2 separate regions of the Homo sapiens genome follow, and region 2 is linked to region 1. The links come from fine-mapping of genetic effects on gene expression. Tissue or cell type: whole blood. Region 1 holds a variant in brackets; the other region holds the start of a gene. All regions are shown on one strand. Distances are between the middles of the regions.

What was found. PIP is the estimated chance that this variant, and not a neighbour inherited with it, causes the effect.
Region 2: DAB2IP starts here. The variant in region 1 is fine-mapped to the expression of DAB2IP in whole blood (TOPMed, PIP above 0.99).

What each region holds. Positions count from the first base shown.
Region 1 is chr9:121,558,027-121,560,705 of GRCh38, reverse strand. The region is part of intron 1 of LOC107987016 (a long non-coding RNA gene); the gene reads left to right. Among named protein-coding and RNA genes, the nearest start is that of GGTA1, 60 kb to the right of the region's middle. RefSeq lists an enhancer at 2,382-2,676. The variant G/T (reference allele first, on the strand shown) is at 1,523.
Region 2 is chr9:121,650,210-121,652,888 of GRCh38, reverse strand. It overlaps DAB2IP (DAB2 interacting protein), which reads right to left and starts at 1,255. Exons shown (of 16, transcript NM_001395010.1): 1 at 990-1,255. The coding sequence starts at 1,113. RefSeq lists an enhancer at 2,678-2,679.

The DNA.
Region 1 (2,679 bases):
GGGTGCCTGTAATCCCAGCTACTCAGGAGACTGAGGCAGGAGAATCACTTGAATCCGGGAGGCAGAGGTTGCGGTGAGCTGAGATCGCACCATTGCACTCCAGCCTGGCCAACAAGAGCAAAACTACATCGCAAAAAAAAAAAAAAAAAAAAAAAAAAATAGAAGTTGGACCAGAGGAGGTGCTCAGTGAATCTAAAATCCATAGCCCATAGCACAGCCTGCCAGGCCCTGCAAAATCTGCCCACCAGCTCATCTCCCCCTCCTCCCATCTCTTTCCCCTCTCTCCTTGTCTCCCTCCCTCTCTCCTCCTTTCCCTTCTCTCCTTTTCCTTTCTCCCTCTTCCTCTCCCCCCTCCCCCAACCACATGGGCCTCCCAGTTTTTCTTTGCACTGCCAGGTGCATCTCACCTCAGGGCTTCCCTATTTCTTCTTTTTTTCTTATTCTTTTTTTTTTTTTGAGATGGAGTGTTACTCTGTCACCCAGGCTGGAGTGCAGTGGCCCGACCTCAGCTCACTGCAACGTCTGCCTCCCAAGTTCAAGTGATTCTCCTGCCTCAGCTTCCTGAGTAGCTGGGATTACAGGTGTGTGCCGCCATGCCTGGCTAATTTTCATATTTTTAGTAGAGACGGGTTTCACCATTTTAGCCAGGCTGGTCTGGAACTCCTGACCTCAGATGATCTGCTCAACTCCACCTCCCAAAATGCTGGGATTACAGGTCCCTCTATTTCTTCTGCTTGGGATGAGAGCCCCCTCCCCCGTGTTCAGGTCCTGGCCATATGCTGCCTCCTTTAGAGGCTCCCCTGATTACCCTCTCTAAGATATCATGACCCCTGCATCCCTGCCTCTCCCATGGCTCTGTCTGCCCCTGTCCCGGCTTTAGTTTTCTTCCTGGCCCTTCGGATCCCACCTGACATTATTTATATATTTATTTGTGTATCATTCTCCAGCCCCTACTTTCATGGAAGCTCCAGTCTGTATCCCAGCACCTAGAACTGTGCCCAGCACAGTGGGCCCCCAATAAACATGTACTGAATAAAATATTTGGCCGGGTGTGGTGGCTCATGCCTGTAACCCTAACACGTTGGGAGGCTGAGGCAGGTGGATCGCTTGAGCCCAGGAGTTCAAGACCAGCCTGGGCAATATGGCAAAACCCCATCTCTACAAAAAATACAAAAATGTGCCGGGCTTGGTGGTACACGCCTGTAGATCCAGCTACTCAGGAAGCTGAGGTGGGAGGATCACTTGAGCCTGGGGTGTTGAGGCTGCAGTGAGCCATGACTGCACCATTGCACTTCCGCCTGGGTGACAGAGCAAGACCCTGGCTCAAAAGAAAAAAAAAAAGTATCTGTGGAATGACTAAGCGTTGGCTGAGTTGTTATTTTTTTTTCCCCACTCCCTCTCGCCTTGTATGCACTCCATCCAGGAGCCCTTATTGAGGTACTGGGTTCCTTCTCTGTCACCCAGGCTGGAGTGCAGTGGCACAGTCTCGGCTCACTGCAACCTTCACCTCCCAGGTTCAAGC[G/T]ATTCTCCTGCCTCGGCCTCCCAAGTAACTGGGATTACAGGTGCAGGCCACCATACCCAGCTAATTTTTGTGTTTTCAGTAGAGCCAAGGTTTCACCATGTTGGCCAAGCTGGTCTCAAACTCCTGACCTCAAGTGATCCACCCACCTCGGCCTCCCAAGTGCTGGGATTACAGGCGTGAGCCACCGCGCCTGGCTCTCCCTGCATCTTAATGCTTTTCTGGTTGGACTGGGTCCTCCCCACTTCTCATTCAGGGCTGGTACCCGGGGGCCAGAATGGGAGGAGGGAGACCAGAGGGTCTTGTACTCAGAGAGGCCTGGTACTCTCCATGCACCTCATATATCAACCTTCTAAAAAGGTTTTCTGAGCCCCATTTCACAGATAGGAAAGCTGAGAGGCGTTCAAGGGGCTGAGAAGCAGCAGAGCTGGGGCTTGAGTCCGCCTGACAGGAAGTCATTATTCGCCCCAAGTAAACACCCAGTGCCTCTTAGCCAAGGAGGGCAGAAGTATGTCTGGGTGGGGGTGGCAGGGAGGTGTGGAGGTGGGAAGGGGCCTTCAAAGAGGGAATGTCTGAGCCAGGCTTTGGTCTGCTCCCTGGTGGTCTCACCTTACATCCCGGGCCCCTCCCACAACTGTCCTTCTCCAGCCCCCGCATTTAGGGAGGCGGTGGTCTCTGCTTTATTATTATTTTTGCAAACTTTTATTTTAGGCGCAGATTTGTTATATGGGTAAACTCATGTCACAGGGGTTTGTTGTACAGAGGCTTTCTTGACTCATCTAAAGGCCTTGAACCAAGGGTTGGCACCGCCTTAGGAATTCTGAGCCAGCCCCAGGGGACGAGGGTGCATTGCCGGCGGCCCTGTCATCGGCTCCCCAGGGCAAGCAGGGGCCACAGACAGCCAGCTGCCCCATGTGTGTGCTTGCCTAGGGTCCTCGTGAGTTCCCACGTCCTCTCAGGGAATCCCAACTGTCCCAAGGAAACCCAGGCTCAGAGGAGGAAGTGGCTAATCAGCCGCACAGAGGGAGGATGTGACAGGCACCACGCTTTGGGGCTGGGTTAGAAATTTGAGTCCTCCGCTGTGGTGCGGCTGGGGAAGTTAAATAACTTGGCACTCCCTCCCCCAACACACAGCTGATTCCAGGGCCCAGACTCTCAAC
Region 2 (2,679 bases), 92 kb before region 1:
CTACCTGCCTGCTTCATTTACCCTCACACCGACAAGAAAACTGAAGTTCAGAGGCAGCTCAGCCCAGGTCACACAACGGCAGCCTGCAGGGTGGGAATGTGGCCCCTCTTGGTCTACCAGATTCCCTGCATGGCATTTGTTGGCACAGGGCCCGGCTTCCCACTTTCAAGATAACCTGATGGTGTCAACTCGGCCCAGGTCCCTGCTAAGGCGCCGTCTTTCTCCTCCCTTCCACCCCACGGGCACCCTCGGTGGGCCTGAACCTCTGCCTAGGACTCCAGCCTCCCCAGAGCCCCTTTGAAGGCCTCCTCCTCCCAGGGGCTTCCCTCCCTCCTACTCAGCCAGGGAAGGAAGTCCCGGCCACCACCCGCCCAAACGCAGCCCCCGGGATCACACGCATTTCCAGCCGAGGATCCTGTTACTGGAAAAAGAAAATGCTGCTCGCACCTCCCCCTCCGTCTCGTCCTGCCTCCTGAGCTTGATGGAGAGAAACTTTGCAAAGGAGCTGGCGCCCACCCGCTCGAGGGGTCACGGTTCCTTCCCTGAGGTCCACCCACTTGTCCTAGCACCCAAGAGGTGGGGAGCCCGTTAAGTTCCTGGAAAGGGAAGAAAGAAGTCCGCGGCCTGGGCTGGGAAGGCAAGGTGTGGGAAAGCTCAGATCCACCCTGGGTTACTTTATTGCCCGGCTGCTGAGTAAACTGAGGCACAGTGGGGTAGGAGGTCTGATCTGAGATGCGGAGAAAGATTCCAGGCTCCCCTCTCCCTGTCCCTGGCTTAAGAGGAGACCCTAGAGCCTCGGCTTCCCCCGGCGAGAGGAGGACTAAGCAGAAGCTGGGGGAATGGGGGGTCCGGCAGACTCAGGAAGGGGCGGATGAGGAAACCCCCGGCAAATGGCTGGAAGGAGGATCCCGGTCCCTAGCATCCCAGGGCATCAGGTGGCTTAGTGGCCTTAGGAGGGTCTAGGGGTCAGGGGTCGGGGTGGCGCCTACCCCTGGCAGGCCGGGTCCGGCTGCGGGAGCGGCTCCTCTGTCGCTGCAGCCGGGGCCGCCTCAGCAGCCGGTAGTAGTAGGAGGACCTCCCGGTGCTCTTCCTGGCGCTGCCGCCCGCGGACATGCTGCCGCCCGCCGGGCACCGGGCCGGGCCTGGGCGCGCTCACACGGGCCCCATCGGCCGCTCCGGACAGCCCGGCGGGCGCCCACGCGTTCTCCCGCGCTCGCCCGAGCGGCCGCCGAGGCCCTGGCTGCCCCACAAAGTCGCTCAAACTCCTCCTCCGCCTCCTGCCCCCTCCCGCTCCCCGAGCAGCCGGCCCCGCGGCGGGGGCTGGGGACCCGGAGGCCGGGCTGGCACCGGCCCGGAAAGTCAGTGCGGGAGAAATCCCGGCCTGGAATCGGCGGGGCGAGGCGGCCCGGAGTTTCCCCGGGACCCCAGACGGGTCGTCCCGAGGGTTCTGGCTCCCACCCCCGCCCCCGAGGGTTCGACCGTCGACCTGAGGGCGCACCAGGCACCCAATCCCGCCAGCGCGGGTAGACGGTGCACACCTGCTTGTGCGCTCTCCGGAGCCCGGGGTAGGACGCATGCTTGGGGACGGTCACCTTCAATTAGGGTCCGTTCCTGCCCCAGGCTCGCTGGGCTGAGAAACGACCCTCACTGCTCCGCAGGCCCTGGCCCAGCCAGGTTGAAAGACTCCCCTGTGATGCAGGATACTTGCCTCTTCTTTACGTTTTAAAGGTTGTCCCGTCTGATACACGTATCATTTTTATGTAATTAAAATTACGGTGTCTGTTTCAAGCACTCAAAGCACTGAAGGCAGGGCAGAACAATCCCTACCCTACCGTAGGCACCAGAAACTCAGGGTGGCAGAAGGAAAGGTACCAACTCCCTCTATTGCATTGGCTGAAAAACTTTCTCCAAGTCACTCCTCAGCTCAAGAGCTTTCCGTGGCTCCCCAGAGCACAATGGCAATACGTCTAAACATCCTTGTTATTTGGACCCCAAATAATCTTGCCCCAACCAAAGTCCCCTCCAGCCTCACCTCTGCTCCCCCTAATTCTCACTTCTCTTTGCTGTGCTGCCAGCAGGGACTGCCTTCTTGGCTATTTTCTCCACCCGACCAAAGTCCACCCTTTCAGGACCCAGCTCCTCCACCCTTCCCTAACCATGGCCCACAGTGATCTCTCTCTCTCCCCGCCCCTTATCTCTTTAGCAATATTCGTCGTTTAAATTATTAAGACACCTGCCTGAGCTGCCTCCTTTGAAGTACAGAGGGGGAAACTGAGGCCTTGGCAAGGAGGTCTTGCCTCAGTCACATGGAAAGTGGCAGAGGCAAGTGGTCTTAGCCTGGGGCTCTCAACATTCAGACTTAGGGGTGGGGGGTGTGAGTCACCGCAAGTGCCTGAGGCCGGCTAGGGGATCTTCCTCCAGAACAGTGGGGAAGGTGGGGCCCTGGAGTGGGCGGGGCCGTCTGGGCAGAAATCCAGGCCGGGTTTTGCACCTCACAGGGGAAGCCCCCTCCCTAGCGCTCTCAGCCAGCGGGGAGGGTCCCTAGTCCTGCGGAGCCTGTCTCACAGCTGGAAGCCAGGCGCCTTCCCTGACCAGGGGGGAGGGGCAGGAGGGGTGTTACTCCAGCAAACTCAGTCTGAGGAGTCCAGAGCTATCAGCTGCCCTGGTCCCCTCTTCCCT